Regions from separate parts of the Homo sapiens genome. Here regions 2, 3, 4, 5, 6 and 7 are each reported to be linked to region 1. The links are microRNA targets in miRTarBase. Many come from high-throughput screens and were not tested one by one. Region 1 holds a microRNA gene; each other region holds the end of a gene's coding sequence. Distances are from middle to middle.
Evidence for each region. Region 1 holds the annotated microRNA hsa-miR-5010-3p (UUUUGUGUCUCCCAUUCCCCAG, at 1,688-1,709, shown strand). A microRNA usually pairs through its seed, bases 2 to 8, with sites in the 3' UTR of a target mRNA and lowers its output. Matches are read on the target gene's strand: a 7mer-m8 pairs with bases 2 to 8, a 7mer-A1 pairs with bases 2 to 7 and ends in A, and an 8mer does both.

Region 2: miRTarBase lists PLXDC2 as a target of hsa-miR-5010-3p. Seed matches in the 3' UTR shown: 7mer-m8 at 552-558 and 8mer at 967-974.
Region 3: the mRNA of CLIP4 is a reported target of hsa-miR-5010-3p. Seed matches in the 3' UTR shown: 7mer-m8 at 1,588-1,594.
Region 4: miRTarBase lists RPP25L as a target of hsa-miR-5010-3p. Seed matches in the 3' UTR shown: 7mer-A1 at 2,666-2,672.
Region 5: miRTarBase lists ZEB1 as a target of hsa-miR-5010-3p. Seed matches in the 3' UTR shown: 8mer at 2,623-2,630.
Region 6: the mRNA of CCL16 is a reported target of hsa-miR-5010-3p. Seed matches in the 3' UTR shown: 7mer-m8 at 1,735-1,741.
Region 7: miRTarBase lists HECTD2 as a target of hsa-miR-5010-3p. Seed matches in the 3' UTR shown: 7mer-A1 at 1,226-1,232 and 7mer-A1 at 2,091-2,097.

What each region holds. Positions count from the first base shown.
Region 1 is chr17:42,512,580-42,515,579 of GRCh38, forward strand. It overlaps MIR5010 (microRNA 5010), which reads left to right and starts at 1,609; the gene lies at 1,609-1,728. ATP6V0A1 (ATPase H+ transporting V0 subunit a1) reads left to right here. Exons shown (of 22, transcript NM_001130021.3): 20 at 1,282-1,399; 21 at 1,710-1,881.
Region 2 is chr10:20,279,359-20,282,474 of GRCh38, forward strand. It overlaps PLXDC2 (plexin domain containing 2), which reads left to right. Exons shown (of 14, transcript NM_032812.9): 14 at 345-3,116. The coding sequence ends at 461. Among named protein-coding and RNA genes, the nearest start is that of MIR4675, 270 kb to the right of the region's middle.
Region 3 is chr2:29,181,369-29,184,368 of GRCh38, reverse strand. It overlaps CLIP4 (CAP-Gly domain containing linker protein family member 4), which reads right to left. Exons shown (of 16, transcript NM_024692.6): 16 at 561-2,797. The coding sequence ends at 2,476. Among named protein-coding and RNA genes, the nearest start is that of CLIP4, 67 kb to the right of the region's middle.
Region 4 is chr9:34,608,029-34,611,144 of GRCh38, forward strand. It overlaps RPP25L (ribonuclease P/MRP subunit p25 like), which reads right to left. Exons shown (of 2, transcript NM_148178.3): 2 at 2,467-3,116. The coding sequence ends at 2,777. Among named protein-coding and RNA genes, the nearest start is that of RPP25L, 2.5 kb to the right of the region's middle. RefSeq lists an enhancer at 2,987-3,116.
Region 5 is chr10:31,526,963-31,530,078 of GRCh38, reverse strand. ZEB1 (zinc finger E-box binding homeobox 1) reads right to left here. Exons shown (of 9, transcript NM_001174096.2): 9 at 275-3,116. The coding sequence ends at 2,815. Among named protein-coding and RNA genes, the nearest start is that of MACORIS, 180 kb to the left of the region's middle.
Region 6 is chr17:35,974,884-35,977,999 of GRCh38, forward strand. CCL16 (C-C motif chemokine ligand 16) reads right to left here. Exons shown (of 3, transcript NM_004590.4): 3 at 1,616-2,848. The coding sequence ends at 2,683. Among named protein-coding and RNA genes, the nearest start is that of CCL16, 5.1 kb to the right of the region's middle.
Region 7 is chr10:91,512,034-91,515,149 of GRCh38, forward strand. HECTD2 (HECT domain E3 ubiquitin protein ligase 2) reads left to right here. Exons shown (of 21, transcript NM_182765.6): 21 at 231-2,787. The coding sequence ends at 351. All of the region lies in intron 3 of HECTD2-AS1 (HECTD2 antisense RNA 1), which reads right to left. Among named protein-coding and RNA genes, the nearest start is that of HECTD2-AS1, 98 kb to the right of the region's middle.

The DNA.
Region 1 (3,000 bases):
AATAGGCTAGGTGTCGACAGAGGTGAGGGAGAAGCAGACGTTCGCCCAGAGATGGCATGGTGGAGCCAGCCCCCTCCACGCTGGCTGCACCCCTGTGGCCTGGGCTGTTGTGGCTTTACCAGCCAAGCCACTTTCTCCCATCCCCATGTTCTCAGTGATTTCCCAAGGCATTTCTGGTGTCCTTTGGGAGTGGAATCACGTGGGTTTTGAAAGGAACTGCGGTGAAAAATAGACCCTGACCTGAGGGCAGGGGCCGATGGGGAGGCCACTGAGCCCTCAGGAGTGTCTGAAAGCTCAGAAGATTCTGGTCTGGGCTCTGCGGGGGGAAGCCCCATAAGGGAGCGCCTCCTGGTCTTTGGTCAGCTTGACAGAGAGGCCCAGGGAAAGTACCTGGGGCTTCCAGAATATACCAAATTCAGAAGCCCACATTCACCCCTGACTGTGCTTGGAGCAAACCTGAAAGTTCACTCCCAAGAGCTTGTTCCAGCCCATTCCTTTATTCTGGAAATAATTCTTGGTATTGAAAGGAAAACTGGGACAAAGGGAGCTTGAGGAAAACGAAAACAAACAAGAAACTGGAGATATGCTATTTAGTCTTAACCCAAACAGATATGCTGTTTGGCCTTAACCCATGTGGAAATTTGTAAACTTTGTCAGGATTTCCCTGTGCATGGTGGTGAAATCATGTAGGGAAAAAAAAATTCACCGTGTAATCTCTTTAGAAGTCACAAAAGAAAAAGAAGGTTATCTTGCTCCCAAAAGGCTGTAAAAAGAATAAGTAAAGTGGCCATAGAGGCCTAGTCTTCTCAGGACAGTGTCCGGGTTGAGAGTCTGTCTCCTGAAGCGCACTCTGGGGAAAATCCCTTCCTGCCCTCCTGCAGGTCCTTAGGGTCCCAGACCCAGACAGTCACTTTCTCAACAGAGTGCCGTCAACTCAGCACACACTCCTCTCTTGAGCACAGAGCCCCAGAGGGAGAAGAACAAATGTGTTGAAAAGAATCTTATTAAGATGTAGTTAATTAAAATGTAATGTATTGAGGGGAATGGAGGTGTCCCAGGTGAGGGCTAAGTCAGGCAGGATTTTTGGGGAAGGCATTGCCGAAATCACCACCTGAGCTCAACACTGGGTGCTTCTGGCCCCTCCAGAGTTGAGGTGCCATCCATGGGAAGTGCAGTCCCCTGCCCTGGCCCAGGTTCAAAGCGCCAAGTAGCCACAACTCAGAATGCCTGCACGTTCCCCTCCTAGCCTTATATCTTCTCTCTGGTTTCCTCCCACGACAGTTTGACTTTGGGGACACCATGGTCCACCAGGCCATCCACACCATCGAGTACTGCCTGGGCTGCATCTCCAACACTGCCTCCTACTTGCGGCTCTGGGCCCTCAGCCTCGCTCATGCGCGTGAGTACCTCTCTCCGGGCTCCGGAACTCTAGTTTCCCCCTCTGTGGGCGCACTGTCAGTTGGGGGGCTTAAGTCAAATGGAAATTACATGAAGGTTCTGGAATTATTCAGGTTCCTGAACCCAAGGAGAATGAGTACAGACAGGAGGCTCAGCACTTGTGCCAGGTTAGCTCTGCATGGTGGTCCCACTAAGGCAGTGGGAAGCCAGGATCCAGGGAACCCTAGAGCAGGGGGATGGCAGAGCAAAATTCATGGCCTACAGCTGCCTCTTGCCAAACTGCACTGGATTTTGTGTCTCCCATTCCCCAGAGCTGTCTGAGGTGCTTTGGACCATGGTGATCCACATCGGCCTGAGCGTGAAGAGCTTGGCGGGAGGTTTGGTGCTGTTCTTCTTCTTCACTGCCTTTGCCACCCTGACCGTGGCCATCCTCCTGATCATGGAGGGCCTCTCGGCCTTTCTCCACGCACTGCGCTTACACTGGTGAGGGGCAGTGGGGCAGGGCGGGCATGGGGGTGGATGTGTCCTTAGCTGCGGTGAGAGGGCAGCTTTTCTCCCACACACAGCCCTGCAGCTCTGTGCAGGAAAGATGAGCTGGCCCTGCACTAGCTTCACCTCAGGACACCCCAGCACCGGCATTGCCACAGAGTTTCGGAAAATGGTCACAGAAAAGCACAGCTCAGCCTTCCCTAGGCTCTAGGGAGATGTCCCTGGTGAGTGGTGTCAGGTCCCGCTCCCTGCCTTTAGCTGTCCCCAGTGCTCCTGATTTTGGCTTAAAGGGGCTGCTGGGGTCTTAGGGTTTCTGGTTTTCTCTCTGATGTGTAACTCTTCTGTCTTCAGAACAGTGGAAGCAGCTCTGGAATGTATGTTAAGTGCAGGAAAGGCTAGAACACGCTGCACCCCAGCTTTATCCTCTTTGTTCTGTCATTGTGCCAGGGGTCTTTGAGTTGGACCCCTGGCAGCTCCATTGTGGACCGGAGGGATTCCTGGCTCTATAGGGTGGAGGTCGGTACACTCACGCAGCTTCTTCACATGGGCAGGTTTGGGGTGGTTCTGTTTGTTTTCTTTAATGAAGCTTGTGACTCTTAATGGCTGTGTGTGGAGAGAGCATGAGTTCAGCCTCTGGGACTGGGAGAGCGGGGGTGTGGTCTGGGCTGTGACCACCTCAAACCAGCGTTGCCAGATGTAGCACATAAAAGTACAGTTTGGCTGGGCACGGTGGCTCATGCCTGTAATCCTAGCACTTTGGGAGGCTAAGGCAGGTGAATCACCTGAGGTCAGGAATTCGAGACCAGCCTGGCCAACATGGTAAAACCCCGTCTCTACTAAATATACAAAAATTAGCCAGGTGTGGTGGCACGTGCCTGTAATCCCAGCTACTCAGGAGGCTGAGGCAGGAAAGAATCTCTTAAACCCAGGAGGCAGGGGTTGCAGTGAGCTGAGATTGTGCCACTGCACTCCAGCCTGGGCAACAGAGCGAGACTCTGTCTCAAAAAAAAAAAAAAAAAAATAGGGGAGGGGTTGGGGGCCAGGCACGGTGGTTCACTCCTGTAATCCCAGCACTTTGGGAGGCCGAGGCGGGTGGATCACCTGAGGTGGGGA
Region 2 (3,116 bases), not on the chromosome of region 1:
AATATTTTCTATTACAGTTCCTTTTTGCCTAGTTATATTTGAGCATTTCAGACATATGCATAAGGCATTAAACCTTGCTTGGGAGAAGCTCTGAATCCTTTGAGGGCAGGTGTGACAAATGGTCTTTCCTGTGACAGGGGTAGATAGCGCCATCTTGGAAATGCAAGCACAGGGCTTGGAGGGTTGATAAGGGGAATTCTTAATTCTGACTGTAGCTATAATAAGAGATAATTTAATGTGTTAATTAATTCAACATTTAATCTAAAATAGCTAGCAAATAGATTTTTCTGGTGCTAGAATCTTACCCTGACGCACATTTTTTATTTTTGTGTTTTCTGTTTCAGAGACGCCCAAGCAGATGGCCTGCGATGAAGTTTAGAAGAGGCTCTGGACATCCTGCCTATGCTGAAGTTGAACCAGTTGGAGAGAAAGAAGGCTTTATTGTATCAGAGCAGTGCTAAAATTTCTAGGACAGAACAACACCAGTACTGGTTTACAGGTGTTAAGACTAAAATTTTGCCTATACCTTTAAGACAAACAAACAAACACACACACAAACAAGCTCTAAGCTGCTGTAGCCTGAAGAAGACAAGATTTCTGGACAAGCTCAGCCCAGGAAACAAAGGGTAAACAAAAAACTAAAACTTATACAAGATACCATTTACACTGAACATAGAATTCCCTAGTGGAATGTCATCTATAGTTCACTCGGAACATCTCCCGTGGACTTATCTGAAGTATGACAAGATTATAATGCTTTTGGCTTAGGTGCAGGGTTGCAAAGGGATCAGAAAAAAAAAATCATAATAAAGCTTTAGTTCATGAGGGATCGACACCTTTGGTTCAAATGTTCTCTGATGTCTCAAAGATAACTGTTTTCCAAAGCCTGAACCCTTTCACTCAAAAGAGCAATGATGAATGTCTCAAGATTGCTAAGAAAAACAGCCCATGCAAGAGTGAGAACAAACACAAAATAAGAGATTTTCTACATTTTCAAAACAGATGTGTGGCAAAAGGATGTTGTTTTTCTGGTCTAGATCCATCTGTACCAACAAGTTCATCACTTTACAGAACGAATCTTTTTATCCGTACAGGAGGTTCAAACCATGTCTGCCTCTTCCTTTGTAATGAATGACCTTTCTATGAGCTGTGACAAAATTTCCGAACAATTAACTAAGGATTTGGGAAGAGGGGGTGGCAAACGGGGCTTTCTGTTTTCCTGCCTCAGCATGAAAACATCTGATTTATGCTTTATGGAAGCCTTACCTCCAATCCCCAACTGTTAAGTCCCATGAAACCACAGTTGCTCTGGGCTGATGGAAACAAAAGGAAACAGTATGAAGAGTTCCTTAATCATTTTTGAAACAAAAATGTTAAGGGATTTTAAACATATGATTATTTTTAATTTTATGCCTTTTCAGTACTAAACACCCATTTCATTGCTGATTCCTGTCTAAGAAGCCATTCACGTCAGCATGGCGATAGAAAGAATGAAAAAACCCTGCTGAATCATACAGTAATTTTCTTTAAAGCACATAGTAGTTACATAAATATATATATATAAATATATTTTTGTTTATAACTAACACAAGGCAGGATCTTGTGACTCTAAGAGTGCGTTTTGTCATCAAGGCAAAACAGATGCAAGATGCATCACTGCATTACTTCCATAGAGTTGTAAAATAATCCTTAATATTAGAATATTTTTCTGTCACTTAGCAAAAGTGGTTCAGTTCATTGCCGCGCCCATCATGTTCTTGACTATTTGATCCACTTTTTCGTTTATGTCAACCCCTTCCCTCTCTGGCTAAATAAAGTGGATGCAGAAAGCTCCTTAAATGGAGATATCGATTGCCTTGGAATCACAATCCTGATTTTGAAAATTCCTCATGAATGAAGAAAGGAATGGCATCCCTTGAGAAGGAAAGTGGTTAATATACATACTGAGCTCCTAAAGTTTAAATTCAGGTACTGAGTGTACAATTTCACCAACATTCTAACCCATGAAACTTTTACACTCTGTGCCAAGAAACTGTTGGCTTTTGTAAGGTACAGTGCTCAACATTTGCAGATTCAGGTCTCAAGAAGCAGAGATGTCTCATAAGCAGCATTTTCCCAACAGTTTAGCATCTGTACACATCTGCCTTGGTCATCAGTCCACTCACAGAGTACCATACTTTATCATCACAAGTGTCTGACGTGAACGAATGCCATTTTCTATTCCATATATTTTGCTTTACAATTTTAAGTATTTGATGAAGATGGTAACTTTTTCCTAACTTAGTTAACTATTAAAAAAAATTTTGAAAAGCAAGGTGATTGAAGGATTGTGATGACAATCTCTTTGCAGCAGCTATGTATGGTTTATGTGAAGTATCCCCACTTATTCTTGTGGAGCAGGTTTGGTGAGACAGCAATAACCAAATGACATGCCAATATTACTGGTGCAACTGGTATTCTACAAATGCATAAGGAACACATAGACGACTTCCTTTTAGGATAAAATGATGCTTCTTTCACTACCTTTTGTGGTAGCTGTGGCTTCCAATAGCAACTGTTTGACAGTTATATAAATCTTGCATGTGTATTCTTAGTTTGTGTCCCTTAAGTACTACTTAATTCTCAAGTAGTAATGTTATTCTTATACCCTTCAGCGTTCTATTTTGATTCAAAACAATTGATTCAAAACAATTTTGAATCAATTTTCTATTTTGATTCAAAACAATTGATAATTCTGTAAAAAAACATAAACACTGAATTCTTCAGTGAACCAAAGCAACAAATAATAGAGAAAACTTCTTGAAACTGGAGTGTGGGAAAACTTCTTAACAGAACTAAGAGTTAAAGGTAGTGAGAAGTGTGTGGTGTGTGAATTCTTTAGTGGTAAGGGGAAATGTGGGCTAAATCCTTTTCTTTCATGAAACTCTCATTCTATTTTATATTTCTGGTTTGTTCTTGTTCCCATGTGAGAAAACATACAGTTTCTGAAAATTCAAAATGGTCATCAATGCTTTGGACTTTACATAATTATGTATTAGAGAAGGTGCAACTGTACATTACTTAATATACTATGAACATAATAGAATAACAAAAAAAGATAACAAAGAGATGCAAAC
Region 3 (3,000 bases), not on the chromosome of region 1:
TCCTCAATCTCGTGAAGGAAGAAAGAAATAATAAGCAAGAAGTTGTAATCAGTAATAAGCATGACCAAATGCTAAAGAGAAAAATAAAACATGAGAGGGAAACAAGGAGCTCTTGGGAGGAGGTGCCAGAGACTCACAACAAGATTACAACACCAGAGTTCACAGTTAGCAAACAGCAGTACTCAACATTCTTACATACTTAAAAATATTCCCCCCAAATCACCCTAAATATAAAAACAAAGTTTTTTAGTAAAAGGCAGCTAATTATTTCTATTTTTTAATCTAAATTCAAAGTGTTCCATCCTACCCTAAATAAACAAGTGAAATCCCAACTGTAGAAATACGTTCTTTTCTTAAATGACTCACTATTCATCAAAACAATACTAATAGGATGGTGGCTATGAACATAGACTGTTGAGTAGAAAGCATGATACTTTTTAATACTCTTTATAGGGACAGGACAAATCCAAGCCATTACCGTGAGGAAAAAGTTCAAAGCATATGCACCCTGAGTTACTGAGAAAAGCAGAGTTGCAAATAGGGTAAATGACAAGATACCATTCCAAAACCACACAGCTTCCCTTTTTATTGATGCTCAAGAAGTGAACTTTAAATGACATTTCATAAGCAAAACACAAATGAAAACACCTAATGTGCATGTATAGTATATGTAAACATACATAGTATATGGACTCAATCATCCTCATCTAAATATAAAGAGAACAACTGGTTCTTTGACCTCAAAAATAAATTCAATGTTGGCATTACTGTTTTTAACTTACAGTGTTTTATATTTAACAGGAAAAATTATGAATAACCAAGTTTGGTGTGGTCATGGATTTCATGTTAAGGTATAAATAGAGTTTTTAAGAAATAATCTGTATAATAAAATAAGTTTACTTTTGAATCGCAGTACAGTCATTTCCTTCAATCAATAAAAATATTCCTTGATTACAAAGCAGCCTTATTTTGCAAATGTATTTCAGGAAAATAGCTCTAGCAATATTTGAAATACCACACTATTTTAAAAAGGCAGCGAAGTGACAGAATTTAGATTTAAAATAGTATATTGCAAAATAGTTCAACATATTATTTCTAAGCACAAGGCAAGCTCCATTCTGAAGGATGCTTTTTAATCTTATAAAGCAAACTGTTCCAATATTTCTGTGGTAAAGTCTAAATATTTACAATAAAAGATGAATCTTTACACAGACAGGACATAAACTTCAATACCTAACCACAATGCAAACATTTTACATTATGACATCACTCTAATGTGAAGCTTAGTTTGTTAACATGTGCTCAAGAAGGAAAATAAAAACAATACAGTTCTGTAGCTTTGTAACAGGCAGAACTCTGCAACAATTAGAGAAATAAAAACAGCAAACAACACCAGTTCTATGAGTAACAAAACAAAAAAAATCCAGATATTATAAACATTTAAGTAAATAACTAATACATCCTTCCTGATATATCTTTATTTGCTCTCTTCTGTTAAATACGTTTTTTAAAATGTTTCTCATATCCCAGGAGGAAAGGACAGTAAATTATTCACAAAGATAAAAGTGCATCATGTTTGAAAAGTGCTTTGTGTTTATGTGTTACAAACATATCCAATAAGGAAGTTAAGTAAGTCTGTGCAAAAAAAATCTAATTATTACTTGAATTCATAAACCTTAATCATGGGTTTTTTGTAGTTCATCCAGATGAAGCAGTCAAGCAGCAGAAGAAAAATCTGAGATTAGACATTTTGTATAGCAGAAAGAGCACTGGGCCACAAGTGAGGAGACCCACAGTCTATTCTTAGCTCAGTTAACCAACCAGTTAGTGACCCCAGGTAAGACGGGCTTCCATTTCAGTATTTGGCAATGGGCAAGAAGCAGAGCTGGAGAGCCTCTAAGGCCCCTTCCAACTCCAAAATTATCATGTATCTTTAGATGAGGCATTTCTGAAAGGGCAAATAATTTTACCAAAATATAAAACTACATACTAGTCATCTAGCTACTACTCACTCATTGGACTTATTAGTAATAAAGCACAGAAAGAAAGAAAAATTCCAAAAATGATTGACAAAAAAAGGTCACGTGAACATTACACATAACCAAAGCTAGAGAAACCCTTCACAATTAGGGCACTAAGAAAAATCCATTATGATGTGCAAAAACAAAACAGAATAAGCAAGAAATGCAACAGCTGGTCACCTGATGGCACTTTTTCTTCCTGAGTCCCAGAATCTTCTTGGAACCTAAAGCTTTAATTGGTACTTATTTTGAAAATTGCTTTAAAAGAACCATGATTCCCCATAGTTCATATTCATGGCTTTGTAAAGAACTCTCTCTGAATTGTTATAATGGTTTTTAAGAAGATAACTATATTTTCAAAATTTTAATATGGCTAAATAAAGTAAACCATTTACCATGGACTCTTTATTTACACCAAATATATATATTTGAGCTTATTTAATATTTTAGAAGCTTAACAATTCTCATCCACAAGTTTTGACCCATTAATTCCCCGATAGGTCACTCTGCTCGGTCGAACTAAGACTCCATGGTTCGGCTTACAGGTGAAATAGCGCTTGTCACCCACTGACCCATCATTTTTTCCCTTGGCGCTTCGGAGCTCAAGTCCAAGCCAGATACCTGAAGCAAAGTCAGTGGGGCCCACATACCTAACAGTACCCATCTCATTGGAGCTCGTGAGCAGGACCTGAGACCCCTCGTGCAGCTTCACGCTCCCTTCAATGCCACCTGCGGTGGGGGTGCTGCTCCAACTGCGACGCAAAGCAGCTTTCGATCTGTGCGGAAGGGAAAAGTGGGAAAAATTATTTAGTGCTGAAGCCACGTAATGCAATGCATCATATTCATTTCCACTGCCAGATTCAGAATTCATTCACTCAGTTCCCAAAAGAGAATACTTTATGGTCACAACTTGATTTTTAAATTTTAAATAGCAGTTTTAGAGTATACAGTTGACCCATGAACTACACAGGTTTGAAGT
Region 4 (3,116 bases), not on the chromosome of region 1:
CAGCCTGGCCTACATGGAGAAACCCCGTCTCTACTGAAAATGCAAAATTAGCCGGGCATGGTGGCGCATGCCTGTAGTCCCAGCTACTCCGGAGGCTGAGGCAGGAGAATCGCTTGAACCCGGGAGGCGGAGGTTGCGGTGAGCTGAGATTATGCCATTGCACTCCAGCCTGGGCAACAAGAGCAAAACTCCATCTCCAAAAAATATATAAATAAAAATAAATAAATAAATAAAAGGCAAGGATGAGACCTGGAGAGAGATGTGGGATTGAGGTTTTTTTTTTTTGAGATGGAGTCTTGCTCTGTCGCCCAGGCTGGAGTGCAGTGGCGCAATCTCGGCTCACTGCAAGCTCTGCCTCCTGGGTTCACGCCATTCTCCTGCCTCAGCCTCTCGAGTAGCTGGGACTACAGGCGCCCGCCACCACACCCGGCTAATTTTTTGTAATTTTAGTAGAGACAGGGTTTCACCGTGTTAGCCAGGATGGCCTTGATCTCTTGACCTCCTGATCCGCCTGCCTCCACCTCCCAAAGTGCTAGGATTACAGGCATGAGCCACCATGCCTGGCTTTTTTTTTTTTTTTTCTGAGATGGAGTCTCGCTCTATTGCCCAGGCTGAAGTGCAGTGGCGGTTCACTGCAACCTCCGCCTCCTGAGTTCAAGCAATTCTCCTGCCTCAGTCTCCCACGTAGCTGGGATTACAGGTGCCCACCACCACGCCTGGTTTTTTTTTTTTTTGTATTTTTAGTAGAGACAGGGTTTCACCATATTGGTTGGGGTGGTCTCAAACTCCTGACCTTGTGTTCCGCCCGCTACGGCCTCCCAAAGTGCTGGAATTACAGGCGTGAGCCACCGCCCCTGGCCTTTTTTTTTTTTTTTTTTTAAGATGGAGCCTCATTCTATTGCCCAGGCTGGAGTACAATGGCGTGATCTTGGCTCACTGCAACCTCTGCCTCCTGGGTTCAAGCGATTCTCCTGCCTCAGCCTCCCAAGTAGCTGGGATTACAGGCGCGCACCACCATGCCCAGCTAATTTTTTAATTTTTACTAGAGAGGGGGTTTCACCATGTTGACCAGGCTGGTCTCGAACTCCTGACCTCGTGATCTGCCCTCCTCGGCCTCCCAAAGTGCTGGGATTACAGGCTTGAGCCACCGCGCCTGGCCTGTTTTGTCTTTTTGAGACAGAGTCTTGCTCTGTCACCCAGGCTGGAGTGCAGTGGTGCAATCCCAGCTCACTGCAACCTCTTCCTCCTGGGTTCAAGCTATTCTCCTGCCTCAGCCTCCCAAGTAACTGGGATTCCAGGCATGCACCACCACGCCCAGCTAATTTCTTGTATTTTTAGTAGAGATGGGGCTTCACCAAGTTGACCAGGCTGGTCTTGACCTCAAGTGATCCACTCGTCTTGGCCTCCCAAAGTGCTGGGACTACAGGTGTGAGCCACTGCGCCCAGCCTGTTTTCTGTTTTTGAGACAGGGTCTCACTCTGTCATCCAGGCCGAAGTACAGTAGCACAATCATGGCTCACTGCAGCCTCAACCTCCCGGGCTCAAGCGATCCTCTTGCCTCAGCCTCCCAAGTAGCTGGGACTAAAGGTGCACACCACTATGCCTAGCTAATTTTTAGATGTTTTTGTAGAGACAGGGTCTCCCTACTATGTTGCCCAGGCTGGTCTCCAACTCCTGGGATCAAGCAATCCTCCTGCCTCAGCCTCCCAAAGTGCTGGGATTACAGGCATCAGCCACTGTGCCCAACCCAAAGATATGATTCTAAGACAGGAAAAAGCATGTTTGCAAACTAGTGGAGTTGAGGATAAATGTGTATACAGACAGGTCTGGAGGTGAAGATGGAACATGAGGGAGTTCGAAAGGCCTCTGTCTCTTCAAAGCAGAGTCCAGCTCCATAGCTGAGATTGGGGCAAGGAAGCTGGAGGGAAGGAGGTGTGAGACAGTTGTTGCATTTGGGATAGGTAAGTCATTAATAACGATAATAGCAATTAACACTTAATAGCACTATGTGCCAGTGTGGTATCTAAATGTCATATATGTATATTTCCTTATGTAATCTCATAACAATCCTATGTGATAAACACTATCGTATTCCTGTTTTATGGATAAGACCACTAAGGCACAGAGCAGTAACTTGCTAATAAGTGGCAGACCAGGATTGAAACCCAGGCAGGTTGGTACCAGAGTCCATGCTCACAACCACTATACTATACTGTATGCTGCAGATGGAGAGAAATGTCTGACCTGGCAGTGTTCCTAAACCAGGCCAAAGCAGGGGCAAATAACTATCCAGGGAATTAGATATATTCAGTACTGACTGAGGCTTCTTGTAGACACTATATTCTCCCAGCACCGGCCTGAGCCTACTACTCTTCCTCTGTCTTCACCCGATCAGCCCCCCGGGGTAAGGGCGGGGACTCCCATTTCTTTAATCCCACTCCACATAGCAGGCTGAGTAGAGGCTCATCAAATAGGTAGAAACTTTATTTCCTAAATCCCTCCCTGGACCTCTTTCAGAAGGCAGTTCAAATGCACTGTAGGTAGAAGGCAGAGGAAGCCCTTATTTAGCAATGCAGAACTTGGCAGAGGCCCCACATCTGTCATTCTTCACAGCAGTCCCTTCCCACATGCTAGAGGGAAGGGGAAGCATGATAGGGAGGTCCACTTTTGTGGACTCAAACCTTGATGGGGATGTTGAGCAGTCACAACGCTTCTCAGAAAAGGCACAAGCACCCCAGACATTCAGGCCCGGAGAACAGGCTGGCTCAGCAGGTCTTCACGATCGGGTGTCTCGAGCCCTTCTTCGGGAACGAGGGCCACAGCTGGAGCTGGGCATGGAACCCAGGCCAGGGGGTGCTCCTGGGGGTTGGTAACCACACTCATTGGGGTCCAGGGGGTCCCGGCTGAGCAGCACCCACACTGCAGGCACATGGCGGCGCACTGTGAGGGGGTCTAGCCCTGTGTCAGGTGAGGCTGGGACCCAGCTGTCCTCAGTCTGAAGGAAACGTAGCTTGGTGAGCTGGTGCAGGCCTGGGACCCGCCGCTTGACAATCTCAGCGCAGCTGACAGCCTTTCCTGCAGCCCTGCCAGAACCTGAGAACACTACATGCCGAGCA
Region 5 (3,116 bases), not on the chromosome of region 1:
TTAGTTCCTAATCCTTTTCAGTCAGTCTGTTTATTGGTAGCTGCTCTCAGTGACAGGGGAAATCAGGCAACATGGTAACGAGCACCTACGAATATGGGGTCCTAGAAAGGGAAGTGAATTCTACAAAGGAGAGCTGACTAGGATCAGTCCTATCGCTCCTATTGGAGGTAGTCATGTCCACAAGCCAGCAATACCTGTGCCATATACCATGAGGTTAAGCACCAGGAAGACACCTAGAAATACACTTTCAAAAAATCAAAATAGTAAGGCAATAGAAAAAGAAGGCATAATTTATTGTGTCTATTATGACTAGTGTTTAATAAGACTTATAAGAAAATAATCAAATTATTAGATCATTTAACATATATTCTGGAATTAGAAGCAAAAAAAGTGAGAACATAGCTGAGCTCCATAAACATGCAAATTATATTTTTATTCAACAAATATCTGTTGTCCCAACTTATGCCAGGCACCCTGTTAGGCAGTGAGGAATGTGAGAGTGACTATGACAAATGTGGTTCCTGTTCCTAGTGGGGAAGGAATATAAATAATAGTATCAGAGGTATGATGACAGAAGTGCAGGAGCTGAGAGTCAGAAAGGCATCTAAACCCAGGCTTCCCTGAAATGACCTGAAGCATGAAATGCGGAGGATTAAGGATTTCAGGAAGAAGGAGCAACCTGTGAAGAGGTTTTGTCAACTCTGACCTCTCCAGAAACATTTAGCCACAAGAAAATCCATAATTTAGTGGAGAATGTCTAAAACATTTAGTGTTACCCAAATTCAGCTCAAGATGAATCAAATGCAGGATGACAATGTACCCCATTTCACAGTTTTCCAAAGAAAATACTGATAATGATGAAAAGAATGACAGCAGTTCAGGCTTGTTGATGCATTTTATTGTGAGATGGGAGTCTGGTAAAAAACTAGAAAATGACCATGATGTAACAAGGAACTTAAAAATGAAGAGTCAGATCTGTAACTTACATACATGAATACAGGAACAAATTGGCACAAAATGTTAAACATTGTTCCCAACACTGTTTATAGAAGTTAATCCTAATTTGGCTTACTAAGGAAATGAGAGTTGTATGGTTAGGCTGATTTCTTAATAAAACTGCAGAGCATCATGCTATTAGTCACACAGTGAATTTCAAAATTTAAGTTTTATATTAAAAACTGGGTAAAGGTAAAATGACTTGATTGTAGTTGTAAAACTAATACATTCCCATTTAAGTTCTGTTCTACAGTCCAAGGCAAGTATAAATGTTAACATAACACTGTTAAATCAAATCTCAATGCAGGAGAACCAATTGCATCTCTACTTTAAATCTTATCAACTTTCCAAATTTTCATACTAAAATATATTATTGTATTAATACAAACTACAGTATTATACACTACACTGTGTAATAAATAAAGAAATATAAAAATAAGACACATAAATATAAAAGTTTTCTAAAACTAAAAGTACATATGTCAGTAAGAAGGGTATTAATACTGCCAGGTTTGAAGACATACAGTACAAAAATGTTGCACAGATCTATAAACTAAAAGAAATAAAATAATACTGATAGGTAAAAATCAGCTAATGTTGTTAATAAATTGGGTCCATAATAACTAACATTTGGAAACAGTTATGAGCCAAATAACAATAGCATGTCCATGTCTGAAATGCAAGTACATGGATAAAGCAGATTAGAAAATTTCCCTTTCGTTTCTGTAGAGAAATTCTGAAAATCAATCAACATAAAATCAATACCGAGGAATTGAAGGATGAAATGTCCCAGTGTTTCAGTTTCTCTGACAGAGTCAGTGGTTTTAAGTTTTATTTGGGAATTTTGATACAAGAGACAAATCAACAAATGCTAGTTATTGTAGGCCACACATTGGATGAAGGCGGGTTAGAGCCTTGAAAATACTGAGAAATGGCACTTACAGCACACAGGTCTTGCTTAAGGCCAAAGGAGATACAAAGCTTCATGTCATATCCTTCATATGTTACCACATATTCAAACACAATCACAAACACTGATTCTGATGATTTTGCTGTCCTTATCAGATTAACATTGTTAGTCCCTGCAATCAGAACTCAATGGCAATCTTTTGAACTCCATTTTAAACCACGTGAGTAAGAAACTTCAGTTCTTCTATCAGCTGCTTTCTTAAGGCTAACAATACACTTTAAATGATAATACGCTCTACTAAGACATCTAAATATTAGAAATTACTACCTTCTAGACTGAATTTATAAAAGGTAGTTAGCACGGGTTGGAACTACATTATACTTCTCTGTGAAGGGAATTTTGTAGTGCAGAAGTTCTCACATTTTAAAAAACATAATAAAATACTGAAGCGGATTTAGCATATGTTTACCAATAAAAAATTATAAAATTTCTCCCAATTGTACAGCTTAAGAATAAACCAACATAAGAGTGATAATACTGATAAGATAAAACAATGCCAGATGCATATCTAATTAATCAGCTTCCTTTAACCTCTTGTATTGTTGCTCTCTGAGTCATTAAGGTTTTCTAATCTGCTGCATGTTACAAACTTGTTCCTAACTTTGAAAACTGCATGAAAAATTACTAGGTCTGAGGTTCAGGCACACCCGGATTTATTTTGTGTGTGTGTGTGTGTGTGTGTGTGTGTGTGTGTGTGTGTTTTGTATTTTGTATTTTTTTAGTTTTTACTTTACACAGTAGTGAACAGGAATCACAGCATACAGGTTACTGTGTTTCCATGAAAAGCAAGGATAATATTGAACGAAATTCATTATCAATTAGAATTTATTTTCCTTCTAGAAAAACGATTAGGCTTCATTTGTCTTTTCTTCAGACACTTGCTCACTACTCTCGCCTACTTTTTGTCCTAAGCTGCTTGCTTGACTTTCAGCCCTGTCATCCTTCATCAGACCTTCAGTTTTTGCTTCTTCTCCCTCATTCTCTGCCTCTTCTACCTCTTCTTCTTCCACTTCTTCCTCCTCCTCCTCCTCTTCCTCATCCCCTTGTGGTTTTTCACATTCTTTTTCTTCCTGCAATTCTTCCATCTCTTTATCCTCCTCCTCTTCCTCTTTTTCACTGTCTTCATCCTCTTCCCTTGTCAAACTCTCTC
Region 6 (3,116 bases), 6.5 Mb from region 1:
AGCTGACTCCCCAGCTCAAGGGATCCTCCTGCCTCAGCCTCCTGAGCAGCTGGGACCATAGGCCCAGGCCACCATGCTCGGCTAATTTTTTTTTTTTTTTTGTATTTTTGGTAGAAGTGGGGTTTCGCCATGCTGCCCAGGCTGGTCTCGAACTCCTGGCCTCAAGTGATCCGCCCACCTCAGACTCTGGAAGTGCTGGGATTACAGGCGTTAGCCACCTTGCCCAGCCCCTGTTATGTCTATTTTAACACACATACATCCATCATCCCCCGCCAAGAACTGACCTAAACCAATAAGTTATTCCTGAGGTGCTAAATTGCCACCATGGCCCTTTAGGAATTTTTTTTTTAAATTGAGATGGAGTCTCGCTCTGTTGCCCAGGCTGGAGTGTAGTGGCATGATCTCAGCTCACTGCAACCTCTGCCTCCTGGGTTCAAGCGATTCTCATGCCTCAGCCATCTGAGTGGTTGGGATTACAGGCGACCACCACCATGCTCAGCTAATTTTTGTATTTTTAGTAGAGATGGGCCATGTTGTCCAGGCTGGTCTCAAGACTCCTGGCCTCAAGTGATCTGCCCGCCTTGGCCTCCCAAAGAACTGGGATTACAAGTGTGAGCCATCGCGCCTGGCCTAGAAATTTTTTTAAAGGAAAGATGCTGGGACATCTCATGGAACTGAAAGACCAGCTGAAGCTCCCAGCCTGGAGCTGGGGCAGGAAGTGAGGCAGTTCCAGGGACCTCAGGACAGAAGTTCATAGACCTCTTTCCTTGGGACACTGCCAGAAACTCACTTCTGCTCTAGCAGCAACCAGACTGAGTTTCTCAGGTCCAAATTTCAAATCTCTCTGAGAGTCTGATTGGCCAGCTAGATGAGATGGCCATCCTGGGAAGATGAGCTTGGGCTGGGGAGGCAGCTCGTTTTTTTTTTTTTTTTTTTTTTGAGACAAGAGTCTCTCTCTGTCGCCCAGGCTGGAGTGCAGTGGCACGAACTCGGCTCACTGCAAGCTCCGCCTCCTGGGTTCATGCCATTCTCCTGCCTCAGCCTCCCGAGTAGCTGGGACTACAGGCGCCCGCCACCACGCCCGGCTAATTTTTTTGTATTTTTAGTAGAGACAGGGTTTCACCGTGTTAGCCAGGATGGGCTCGATCTCCTGAGCTCGTGATCTGCCCCCCTCGGCCTCCCAAAGTGCTGGGATTACAGGCGTGAGCCACCGCGCCGGCCAAGGGAGGAGGCTCGGGTTTTAACAACATGGCCACTGGGGGGCAGTTATGAGTCAGTTTACCAGAATCCAATTCATTGGCCCGTTTTCAGCTTGACACTTCACTGCATTTATTTGTTTCTCTTAACCATCCGGTCTTAATTACCTGTCTTAACCATCCGGTCTTAATTACCTGGCTTTTGTTTTGTCTTCACAACAGCGTTTTGGGAGAATGTTGAATCCAAGCGAGCTGAGTCAGCTGTCTGCTGTTAAGCTGGAGACAGAGGGGAAGATTGAATATAAATGGCCCCCAACCTTGACAAAAGTCTCAAGAAATGTGGAGAAGCCCCTGAAAAAAACTGAGATTAAGCTTCTTTCACCCTAGCAGAAAAAAAAGCAGGAGGTTAGGAATCAAGCTGTCAAATAAGGGAGTTTTATTTATTGCATGTTTGGGTTTTGGACTAAGAGTTTACCCCTAGCCGTGTCTCATACCCTTTCTTTCCCTGTCCTGCAAAGCTTAACATGGGAGGTAGAGATTTGTGTCTCTTCTTCTTCTTCTTCTCTCTCTCTCTCTTTTTTTTTTTTTTCCAATCAGGCACTCTCTGTACCCCTGCCACCCTGAGGAAGACAAAATATGAGAGGATCTAGCAAAGTCTCTGCAAAAATGATTAATGTGAATATTCCCATCCGGACTTCCTATGAAAAAGTTGCATTATAAAATGAAAGAATAATTGAAGAAAATATAGATCCAGAAAAATCCATAAAGATGGACAGGAAAAATCAAGAGTTCTATGGGGCTCTTAATGGGTCAAGACCCAGAGGGCAAAGATCATCTGGAAGGCTGGAAACTGGCTAAGTATTTAGAATGGCTTGTGTACTGGTGTGAAGTGAGGAATTGAAAGAGAGCAGGAGAAGGATGTGAAATATATTTTTCTGTGTATTAAGAGTGCACTGGCCGGATGTGGTGGCTCACGCCTGTAATCCCAGCACTTTTGGAAGGCTGAGGCAGGTGGATTGCTTGGGCACACGAGTTTGAGACCAGCCTGGGCAACATGGTAGAATCCCGTCTCTACCAAAAATACAAAAATTAGCCAGGTGTGGTGGCGCAAGCCTGTAGTCCCAGCTACTCGGGAGGCTGGGGTGGGAGGATCACTTGAGCCTGGGAGGTGGAGGTTACAGTGAGCCAAGATCAAGTGAGCCAAGATCACACCACTGCACTCCAGCCTGGGTGACAGAGTAAGACCCTATCTCAAAAAAATAAAAATATAAATATAAAAATAAAAGAGCGTACCTCTGCCCACGTCCCTTAACTTTGGTATTTCCTCCTAAGATTGAGAAAATATTCGAAATACTTCTCCTTTATTTTGATCATTGTTCTGCTTCTCTCAATGTGACTGGCTAGTTTCAGCCTAATAAGGCTTCCCCTGTTTTCATAGGTTTACCCCTCTCTTCTGTAAACAAGGGCTTCCACTAAAGCCTGGTCATCACTGGGAGTTGAGGAGCTGGGGTTGACCATTCTTTGCTGTAATAATTTTAACCGTGGACAAGTTCCTGGTAGGCAGCAAAGGTAGGTTGGGATCCTTGATGTACTCTTGGACCCAGTCGTCATTGGGGTTGGTGCAGACTTCTCGGTTCCTCTTGGTGACGAAGCTGCAGAGGCAGAATTAGACCGTCATGGGCTGCAGACTCGGGCAGGAGTCCGGTGCCCACCCCCACCTCTGGTTCACATGGAGCTCACCTTATGTTCTTTAAAGCTTCCCTGGGCCTGTCCTGGCTGGGTTCCCTCAGACAGCCTCTCTCTCTGGCCTCAGAACCTTACCATCCCTTCTCTCAGTCCCTTCTCCACTCAGCCTAGACCCTCAAGCTTGGGTTTCATAATGAACCACATAGCTAAAAGTGGCAAAATTAGGAATTAATC
Region 7 (3,116 bases), not on the chromosome of region 1:
GTGGTAACATTGGTTGTCTTGTCTGTAACCACAGCCTTAGTGTCTAGAGTGGTGTCTGATACAAAGTGAGGTACTCAGTAAATATCTGTTCAGTGAAGAAATGGATGAGTCATCTCTTAACAGAGTGAAATAGATTTGAATGTGTGTGTCCTGGTATTTTTTAAAGTTGCATAGCAGTCATTTTGTGTGTGTTTCAAGACTTAGTATTTTTTTTTAATTTTTTTCCCTAGCTTACCTGTGGCCCATACCTGCTTCAATCAACTTTGCCTTCCCCCCTACAAGAGCAAAAAGGATCTGAAACAGAAATTGATCATTGGAATTTCAAATTCAGAAGGTTTTGGACTTGAGTAACCTAGAAGACTTGAAATATAATCTTTTATATGTAGCATTCACTTCCCTCTTACTGTGCCTTTAGCCTTTTCATGTTTCTGTCTCAAAACACTTTGACAAAGCTCACCAACTTTAAAATATTAAGTTTTTAAAAAATCAAATATGAAGTATGTTCAGCAAAGGCATAATTTTCTAAAAACACACACAGAAATCGCTTGAGTGAGGAAAAGTCCACATGGCAGAGACAGGTATGGTCCAGTTCCTCTTTTATATAGCACTTTATCATTCTCCACAAGTAGTTTGTCACAGGCATTCCACTGGGAAAGCAAAGTACAGTGAAGAATGAATTTATGGTATAGTTGAACCCAGTGGCAGATTGTACACTGCTAGCACTGCTAGCACACAGTAGCAAAGCAAACAGCTACATTATCTTTAACATAAGGCATGTAGCCATATTTTCATATAGTGGTATACAACACAGTATCATTGCAAATGCAGTTTACAGGGATTTTTGATATACTGGCTTGGGACCTATAAGATTCTTCTCAGCAGTTGCTGAAAAGCATGTAAATAACTACATAATAGCCTGAGAATAATGGGATTTTGATAGTGCCATTTATTGTTAAAGATTTATTTTTACAAAGTAAATTCAGGGTTTTAGATGTGTACACAGCTTTTACAAATCAATAAAGATGATTGTACAAGAGTATTTTCAGACTAATTGGATTCAAGGTTATATTCTTTTAAGTGTTGTTAGTCTGCATGCACATTGGCAGTAAACTAGTTACTTGTGTACTCTGTAATATTTGTATAATGATCATTTCTTCTTAAGGCTCAAGATATTAGAAAAGAAATCAGACCTAAATAATCATTGATGAAGTATGTCAGTTACAAGCACAAAAGAATATAACTGCTTTTATAAATCTTTTGAATCATGTACAAGACTTATATCTACATTTTTTGATCACCAGTTGTACCAAAACACTAATTTTTGAAAAAGATAGGTTAAAGTATTTGACAAAAGTGAATACAATAATAACACTTGTGTCAAAATGATATAGCTTAGTATAAAAATAAAATTCAACGTTTTGGCCAAAATGTTTGTTTTTCACTGGATTCTGAATATAATAAATTCAAAGTACCCTTTTTTTAGAGTTTCTAATAAAGTAGTATGTAAAAAGAAACTGCATTTTAAGTCAGACAGTAAATGTTTTTTTTAATTTACAGCAAATGAAGCAGTTTTATTAGCATGTTACAAATATTGCCAAACCAAGACTTCTCTACCATACTTTAACAGCTTTCCTTCAGAAAACTCTGAAGTTATATTTGCAATAATAATGAAACCAGCATTTAGTACCAGCATATGGTTCATATGCAAATAATACTTTCCCCAAAATCTTTCTGGGCTAGGCTATTTTCTTGCTATGCTTCCTGCACCCAACCAGCAGAATTCTTCCAGGGTGGAGGAACTAATCAGCTTGTTCTCCAACAGTTCTGAAGCCAACCCACAAATCTTTGAGGAAAAGGGGTCACTTTGTTTACTATTCTCTTGGAGATGGAAGTGATTCTGCTCTTCCATTTGGGTATATTATTTCAAGGGTATTTCTTCTTAAAAATCTTGGAAAGCCTAAGAGAGTTAAAGGCATCCTGGTTTTGTTTCATTTTGCTCTGTTTTAAATCCATATGCAAATAAAACTGCTTCTCTCTTACACTGCTTGAACTAGAAAATCAGCTTTTTAATGTAGGTTACCACTTATAAGCACAAAAGAAACATGTATAAGAAACCAGATTTAAGTGTTTTAAATAAAATGTAAACAGTTTTTATTTGGTAGAGATGACTCATGGAAAAATTGTGTTGGCTTGGTCTGCATGTTTAATGATGTGCTTGTATATCGATTAGCTGTGTCACTTTTAAATAAGAAGTCCACACAAGCAAGCCAAATTTTTAGATGACGAAGTCCATAAATAACTAGAGAATTTTTGTTATCTGTTGTTAAGTTGAAATGTATAATCATTTATCACTAAATTGCACATTGCCTTTATTTATTTGTGCTCTGTTTTTGGTTTACAGTGTAATAATACCTCATTTAAAAAATAAAAACCACTACTGTTACATTTTATTAATTTAAAAAGCTAGAAAATTCATGTAGTTACTTTTTTTACATATATAATCTGTTAATGAATTATTGATTTTTGTATCTGCCACAGTAAATTAAAGCATTACACAGTATTTATCAGTATTTTTTAAACATCCTGTCCTTTTTTAAAATCTTTGCTTAGTCAGTCATATTTTTGTCTGTATGATTAGAAGTTTTTACGTCCTTCCTTTTTTGTACAAATCTGTATTGTATTAATTTCTGGATGCAATTTTTCAAATATTAAAATTATACAGTCAGTCAGGCTTCAGTTTATTTTTTGAACACTTGGGCAATTAATTAAAGCCATATGTTTAAAATATTTTATAAATGCAAGCTATTCTTTGCATTATACTCTCTCAATCTAGTGCTTAGGAAAATTGCTGACACATAACTTCAAAAGATGTATGTTGTTGACATTAAGTATTACCAACCTCTGTAGCATATTTTCAGCATGAAATGTATATCCAATATTTGAAAGATCACACAGCTATTCCACCAAATGAATGTATAATACCATTTGGAGTACACCCAGAAGTGAACCAAGTGTAACATTTCATTGGCCGTAGATAGATAACTTCAGCTCTTAAGTAAGTATTCCTCTCCAAAACCATTCATTTGGCCCTTTTCCCCTTGTCCACATACCTCATG